Regions from separate parts of the Homo sapiens genome. Here region 1 is linked to region 2. The links come from fine-mapping of genetic effects on gene expression. A gene starts in region 2. The other region holds a variant in brackets. All regions are shown on one strand. Distances are from middle to middle.

Region 1 (4,539 bases), 79 kb before region 2:
TGCCATTTGAGATAATATACTCATAGTTTCTGGGGATTAGGATGCGGACATCTTTGGGAGAAAGGACATATTTTGCCTACCACAAGCACCAAGTCAAATAGAAGGGTTTTAGGTTTTAAAAAGGGGTTGAATCTAACCACAGTTGCTGAGATAAGACTTAATACCTACAAATGCCACATCTGGCTCTTAGAATAATTTTATCATTATTGCCCACAGCCTCATGTAATGGCAAATTGGATGAAATAAAACTAACAACTAGTGAGTGCCCAACTGAAGACTTTCAGGCATTTTCTAGAAAACATTTCTTAATCACCATAGGTAGGTATCATTTTCTCTTTCTTTGTAAATGAGAAAAGTAAGACTCAGAGTTTAAGCAAAGTGTTCAGGTCATTCAGCTAGTAAATGACAGAGGTACAATTTCTATACAGGTATTTCTGACTCCAAAGTCCATGTATTTACCCTGCTTTTCATGATGTGGAATAAGGGGTGAGTTAGGAGATCCTGGGACACACTATCAGACTTAGGGTTGACTTATTATAATACAGTGTCTCCAGATTGAACCTGTTTAGACAAAGGAATAAAGGAAAGAGAGAAGGAGGAGGAAAGAAAGGATAGAGAGATCCTAAAGTAGTGATTTATGCCAAACTGAATTAGAGCAACTGTAAGTATGTATATGGGAGAGCAATGAAAAGAGACAGGCTGAAGGAAAGCCTTTTTAAAGCACAACTTCAAAGATGATAGCATTCACAGGAAACAGCACCAGTCAGAGAATTACTGTGGTGTGTACTCAGAATACTCTTTAATCAACTCTTATTGCAAAATGTCAGGTCCCAAAGAATGACAGATTCTTTAAGCTAAATAACCAATATTTACTTGTGTACAACTGGCTCACTTACATAAGTGATCCTTTCAGCCACATATCTACACAAATGATTATTAATAATTATTTTTAGTAAACATTCTCCAACCTTTAGCTGCTTACAACTCTAGGTTCTCTTTTCAGCTACTTTATCCTTGAAGATTCAGTAGGAAGTTGCATTGTTTGAAATTAGACAGTGTCTGTTCTAACATGTCCTGGTTAGGATTAGCTTTGATAAAAAGGTTGTGAGTCTAATTAATGGGTCTGCCATTAATTGGCAAGAGGTATTTAAGAATGTAACTTTAAACTGCCCTGTCAAATAATACTGAAAACATTTGAAAAAAATATTTTGGGGGAATTTTCTAAAAAATATGCAGCCTTTCTACTTCTATGGATATCTCAAATTTATGCTTTGATTTAGATACATCTGGCCCACATGATTTTGTATCTCCTCCACTGCCCCAACAAACACCTTGCATAGAACTTGCTTACCAAAATGTGGATTTCTGTTATGGATAACTTTTTTTTTTTTTTTGAGACAGAGTTTTGTATTTGTTGCCCAGGCTGGAGTTCAATGGCACAATTTTGGCTCACTGCAACCTCTGCCTCCCAGATTCAAGCAATCCTCCTGCCTCAGCCTCATGTGCATGTGCCACCACGCCTCCTGCATGTGCCACCACTCCTGAGTAATTTTTGTATTTTTAGTAGAGACGGGGTGTCGCCATGTTGGTCAGGCTTGTCTTGAAGTCCTGACCTGAGGTGATCCACCTGCCTCGGCCTCCCAATGTGCTGGGATTACAGGCGTGAGCCACTGTGCCCGGCCCTGTTATGGATAACTAAGTGATTACATTGTGGGACAATATAAGAAACTGTCCTATGAGACTCATTATAGCAATTACTGTAGGAATATTTTTAAGGGTGATATTTACTCCATCACACCATATCTTCGATGTGAGAACCCAAAGAACAAGTTTATTTTAAGTTACAATACCAGGAAGAATTATGTTTCTTTTATACAGCTGGTTTGTTTTAATCTTACGGGTGCCATAAATCATTTAACATTTCTATTTCCTTATGGTGCTGATTGCTAGGAAACCCAGAGCCAACTTTGTAGTCTATCTCAACGTATTCCATGTATCTTAAAACATGCATTTTAGTTAAGCAACTCTGGTGGTATAATCTTGTCTTGTATACTACTCCCTTTCATTTTTATCTTGTGCTATGTGTATTTTTGTAAACTGTCTTGATTTCTTTAAAGCACAGTATAGAAAATATGTTGGGGAAGTTCAGTTTATCTTTGTCTACTTAGGCACGTTGCATGAAAATTATTGGGTCTCTTTTTCCCCTCCAAATTTGGAGAGTATCTTTGGGTTAGTCTGGCCTAAATGTGACACTCCTGAATTTCACACCAAGGGTTATGGAGGGGCACCTCAAGGAGAAACACATTTGTCTCCTAGAGAGGCCAAAACTGAGATGCAAGAAGGTCAATATGACTTCTAATCAGGAGAAATACACTATTAAATTAAGTGTTTGGGTCAGAGAAAACAAGCAAATATAAGCTTAAACTCAAAAGAAGCAAGGACAGGCAAGTAATGGCACATGAAGCTGCTTTTTACGTGGACACTCGCTATATGTATTTTGCTCCAAAATATACAATATTCCTGTAATAGCATGAACTTGTGTGTTTAACCATAGCTAATGAATCTCCTGAGCAACATCCCCTGAATGGTCACTAGTAATTGAAAAAGAATTACAAGTGTAAGATAACTATCAACTCATTACACATTGAAAAAAATATAATAATAGCAATGCTACCATTGAACATTTATGGAGTGTCTACGATAT[A/T]TACCAGGCACTGTGGAAGTACTTTGCCTGCTTTCTCTCGTTTAATTTTCAGAGTCCCAGTAAGTTGGCATTTTTGTAAGTCCATTTTACAAATGAGAAATGTAAAGGAAAGCCACTAGAGGATTCAAGTAGAAGCTTGAAAGAATCTAATTTACATCTAAAGAAGACTCTGGCTGCTATGAAGAGATTTGACTCTAAGGGTAGCCAGTTTGGAGGCTGTTACTAGCACAACATGCTGACTAGGACCAGAATGGGATAATGGGATAATGGAATTGCTGAGAGGTTTTAGACTCATAATATATTTTAATTAACATGTGTGAGTGTAGGTGGGTGTGTATGTATGTGGTACACCATGTTTTTTCTCAAAGCCAATAAACTAAGTGAAAGTTATCAAATGTCAGTGAAGTTCTCCTGTCATTCTGCTCCATGCTGAGGGTGAAGCTAGGGCCTTTTTTCTGGTGATGTGATGCTACCAACTAGACCACCTTCCAATAAAGGGGTGTGATTTTGTTGTGGAAAGAGAGGAAGAAACTGCCAGCTTCCTTCTTCTGTTCCCTTTTGGTGAGTGCCGTGTCATTTCTCCTTTGAGCAGATTGTCATACCCACTGTGTCAGGGAACTTATGGGAAGAGATGTTAGGAAGTCAGAAACTTGGAAATATATTAAGGTCCCAAGACTTCTTAGTTATTTCTTGGCTTTTCCCTTCTATAAGCTTTCCCTCACTTTATACAGAGCTTTTATATGTAAATAAGAGCGATGGGGCTTCTAACAGCCAGGAAAATCTGAGGTAAAACTATGAGAATCAGCTTAAATCCTTGCCAGGTCTCAACCCCAAGGTACGTGACTAAAATGAATTTTTTGTAGATTACTAAATCCATGCTCCCCAAAACAAATTGTATTTCGAAATGACCTAGCATGACATAGACATTTCACTCCCACCAGAGTTCTAATTCTTGCCCTATTTTTCTTGCCTCAAACATATTTTCCTCCTTTATGATCTCCTTATTGTGTTCTCAGTAATATGGGTTTCCCATATGTCTTTCCACTGTCTGCGAGTAGATTATATGTTTTCTGGATTCTCTAATGTGGCATGAGGCTGCTACCATACTATTGGGCTAGCCTGAACCAGGATTCAAGATGGCATGTGGCAGTCATAAAGGGCGTCACTGTAAGTTTTTAGCTAGCTACATTTTAAATGTGTGCGTATATATAATATGCATTTAGATAATATATAATGTGTATATAATATACTTATATGTATGTATGTGTATATGATATACTTATATGTATGTGTATATAATATACTTATATGTATGTATATGTATATAATATACTTATATGTATGTATATGTATATATTAGAAAATAGGTAGTTGTTGTGCTGTGGGTATATTTGTTTTATACGTTATGCCTCCACCAGCTTCACCCATAACACACACACACACACACACACACACACACACAGTTTTAGTGACATTGATTCTACATTACTTCATGTGGGCAAAGTCAACTACTTTAACCTCCAAAAATCTGAACCACATGCTTTTCAGAGTGAGGTTTTGTTGCTCTCTGGGGAAGTACATAGATTTTTTTCACCTTTAATTCCATGTCCTTTTACAAACAGTAGATTCCTAGATCACTGTGAAGCCCATCCTGAAGAGCCTCACATGCCCTCAGATTGGATTATGATGACTGGCTTGGTAAAGTTACTGGAAATAAAGAACAGGAAACAAAAAGTACCTTTGCCTTTGGAAGATAGTCAGATCTAAATGTTCTGAAATTAACTCCACTTTAATTCTGCTTCCAGAACCCGAGCTAATTCCAACTCACCCTTTGG
Region 2 (4,000 bases):
ACTCAAGTGATCCGCCCACCTCAGCCTCCCAAAGTGCTGGGATTACAGATGTGAGCCACTACCACACCTGGCCAAAAAGTCTTCATCTTTTAGAAGTACGTATCCAAAAAGATGAATTGATGTGATGTTGGGGATTTCTTTAAAAATAACACAACAGATGAAGATGATTGGTCTTAAGTTGATAATCGTTGAAGCTGGGGTCTGGGTAACTGGGGGTTCATTATATCATTCTGCTTTCTTTAAAGTATGTTTGACATCTTCCACAAAAATAATGCATTGTTCAATGATGAATCCAAAGTAGATCATTACTTTGATTTTACATTGAATAGTGCTTCATTTTAAGAATGCCTGTGATAGGACCTGAAAGGGCCTTAGAAGTAATTAGTCCAATCTCTACATATTCCTCCTTTTCTTTTGGGCAGAAAGCAAAGAAGGAAGAATAAAGAAGAGGAAGAAGAAAACAATAGTGATATTATATTATTTGCTCTCAAAATAACTTCTAAATTTCCAAAACAAGGAAGCAATAGAAGAAAAAGAAAACAGCGAGATATTATATTTGCTCTCAAAACAACTTCTCAATTTACAAAACCAGAAAGTAATAGGAGAAGCCGCACTTATGTCCACTACCTAGTGCTATCTCTGCAGCTTTATTTTATTATGATTTACTTTTGTTTTCCGAAGCAGAATTTTTCCCAAACTTAATAGTGTCCACGATCGCTCCAACCAATTCGGTTATTTAAGTTTCAAGCTAGATAACCTCCAAAAGAACTTTGCCTTTGACTTGAATACATGCTTCTTGCAATTTGAGTAGTGTTTAGGAGGCCGTTCCCTTTACAAGTCTTGAACCGTTTCTTAAATCTGAATTTGGGAGACGTTAAGGGGAAAGGGTCGGCAGACAGCACCTCAATGCCTTGTTTATTTTTGGTTTTGAGTTTGCTAATAACTTTGTCATCGGGGGTGGAAGAACCTTTATATTTCATTGCCCACGTGACAGTGTTTTTGTTTTAGGGGTAATTTCTAAGGGACAGGAAATTCTCGGGGAGTTTACGTCAGCTTTAACAAGTACAGTAATTACCGTATTGAAGCTACTTGTTTTCAAAGGTCGGAAATTTGAGGTGCCGCGTGAGCACGATTTAGGGACTTTAGAGTTTAGATTTAAGTCATTATTTTTTTGTGATTTAATTTTTTAAGCAGTGTTGACACTGGGTACGTCAACTAAGCTAGGTTTTTTTGTTTTTTTAATCCCCACTAATATAACTCTCAGGTTGTGGCTGAAGCATAAAGCAGGTAATACGCTACACTCACGCTCCTTAAAGGCTACGCAGCTTCAGGAAGCGTTTACAGCAGTAGTGCGCTTGCGCAGCTGGTCCCACACCAAGTCGCCCGCCTCTCCTCGTCCGGCTAGCAGAGGGCGCTGTGAGGTAATGAAGGCGTCCTCCTTAGGGCTCTGGAACAGAGCGTAAAAGGGCGGGAGGCGAAGCTCGCTGACGGGCGTTCTAGCCTTGACTGCTCTGTCTCTATCACCCGTTGTCCTCCAACCTCCCCTGGGCACTGGGCCTGCGGGCCTGGTTGCTAGGCGGAAGCTGGGCGCGGCGGCGGCCGCTGCGGCCGCCCGGGCGTTTGAAAAGCGGCTACGCAGGCGGCAAAAGGTCCTCGGGTGGCGGGCTTGTCTCTGCTTGCAGACTGGCAGGGCTGCAGCGTGGCTTTTTCCTTGAGTCGGGGCACAGTTAGGATCTGGGCTGGCGGCCCGAGGCAGAGGAGCCGGGCGCGCTGCAGCAGACGGCGGTGGGACCTGGCTGCGGAGCGGGGTCCGGGCATCAGGGACCGGGGGCGGGCAGTGGGGGTCCCGCCGGGGGTCCCGGATTACCCGCGACTCAACTGGACCTCACTTCCCCCCAGCCGCCTTCGCCCCCGGACCGCTCACCGCAACCATGGTCTCCAAATCCGACCAATTGCTCATCGTCGTGTCCATCCTAGAAGGTGAGCAGCCTGAGGCTTGCTTTTGCAACTGCTGCCTCCCGAGTTTTAAAAGCTTAGTGTGGGACCGAGGCCTTGTTAACCTTAAGAACCCTGTCATCTGTGCTTTTGTGGTCCCCACAGACTTGTTCAAAGTTGTACGTAGTGAGGTCTGTTAGGCAATTGATTTAAAAATCTCTCCAGGGATATGAGCGCTATTAGGGATAAGTGATATTTAGCGTGACTAGCCGTAGCCCCAGAGAATCTAGAGAAAACGATTTTCATCCAAAGCAGCACGTCGATGGCTTTTATATATGAGCTGAACGTGGTCCTGAGAAGCGCGTTCTGATCAGCGGTTCCCAATAATAGCACTTGTAAGAGCTTTGACTTGAATACAGGCTTCCTGCGATTCCAGAAGTGTTCCGGAGGCAATTCCCTTTACACGTCTTGCTGGAGGACTCAGGGGACTACAGTTCTTAAGAGGGTGTATTATACATTCCTTAAAAGGTGTGTTTTGGATGAATGACATTGGTTTATTGGGACTCATTGAGTGTCAGACACTGTGCTGGGAATGTAAGAATGAAACAGTCCTGATTCTAAAAAGCTAAGGATGTAGCAAGGAGAGTGTGTCAGCAAATAATTCATCAGGATGTGGAAGACCCTAATGAATGACCACCTCTGTCTAAGGAAACTGCGGAAGTTTCACTAGAGGAGGTGGCATTTTTTGGGGTCCTACAGATGATTAGGAATTTGTCAGGTGAAAAAAGGAAGGGCATTCCAGGCAAAGAGAAGAGCAGGGAGCACTTAAAGTATGGAAAAGCAAGACACGTTTTGCCTTGCTTAATTAAATTCACTCAGTAAACATTGGTTAAATTCAGTGTGGTTGGAGAACAGATTTGCAAGAAAGTGGAGGGCATAGGAGATAACAGGTGAATTGAGGACACTTTACGAATAGTATGTTAAGAAGGAGTCATCTTGAGCCAGAGCAGAAGCCTGGCTGCATTTTTTCCCCCATGGGAGAGTGTTTTATAAAGGCCTGGCACTGTGTGAGGGATGAGAGCAAAGGAAACATTGTAATCCTAATCTTTGAATTTTGGAACAAGAGACTGACCAGAAAAGCCATAAAGATTTGGAGCACTATTAACTGTTAGTTTACTTATTGTTTAAAAACATAGGACTGAAATAACCTTAAAATTTGGTTAACAACAGTTTTTAGACTTATAACTGACCATGCTATGAGGAAACAAATACCTCCATTCCCTCCAAGGATGTAGAGGTCTGTCCACGTGGGGAGATCACAGGACACAATATGTTGGGGTATAATATTTAAAATATGTGATATGTACTGTAAATATAGGTTTGAGGGTAGGGTGGGTGGGATGGCTGAAGTTCTTTAAATAATAAGTGAGCTTTAGATATGTGACAATAGAATTCTATGGACAACCCAGGCCAGTCTGACAACCCAGGACATAAATGCAATTCATTTGGGGAAGCTAGTTTTAGAGCAGCAGAAAATGAGGTCCTGAGAGAGGCCTGTTAGTGCTAATTGGGAGAGCTGTGCGATGTGTGTTAATATTCCTAATACAGAGTTTCAAGTGAGAGCCTCAGGCTTAAACTCAAAAGGTTAGCAGTCAAGGTCTTTCTGACCAGCTTGATTCCCAACCAAGTAGCTTGTGCCGGGGTGAGCATGGTGGGTGGAACATTGAAAAGATCAGCAAGATGACCAGGGTAGAGGAAGGTGAATATTTAGAAATGTCATGGTAAGAAATGAGCTTGTACAACTGGAGCGAATAGGCCTCAGAGGATCTTGAAAGCCAGTTTAGAATTAATGTTCCAAGAAATAGGTTGGCAGCATATATTCCTAAATAGAATGCTTTTCTTGAGTTCAGTTTAGTAGCAGTGTGCAAGGAAGAGAACCTGGAGTCAAGGATGTCTGTTAGGTTGTTTCCACAAACATACCCAAAACTAGCATGTGGTCCTCCCTCCAAACTATTCTTCTCTCTTGTTCGTACTGTATTTCCATTCATCATAACCATGCTGTTGC

Evidence for each region. PIP is the estimated chance that this variant, and not a neighbour inherited with it, causes the effect. A credible set is the group of variants that fine-mapping cannot tell apart.
Region 1: its variant is the best candidate, but not a certain one, in a credible set for the expression of CEP120 in whole blood (INTERVAL, PIP 0.81).

What each region holds. Positions count from the first base shown.
Region 1 is chr5:123,499,705-123,504,243 of GRCh38, reverse strand. No RefSeq gene overlaps it. Among named protein-coding and RNA genes, the nearest start is that of CSNK1G3, 10 kb to the left of the region's middle. The variant A/T (reference allele first, on the strand shown) is at 2,705.
Region 2 is chr5:123,420,930-123,424,929 of GRCh38, reverse strand. It overlaps CEP120 (centrosomal protein 120), which reads left to right and starts at 1,527. Exons shown (of 20, transcript NM_001375405.1): 1 at 1,527-1,980. The coding sequence starts at 1,932. RefSeq lists a silencer at 1,827-1,986 and an enhancer at 1,316-2,261.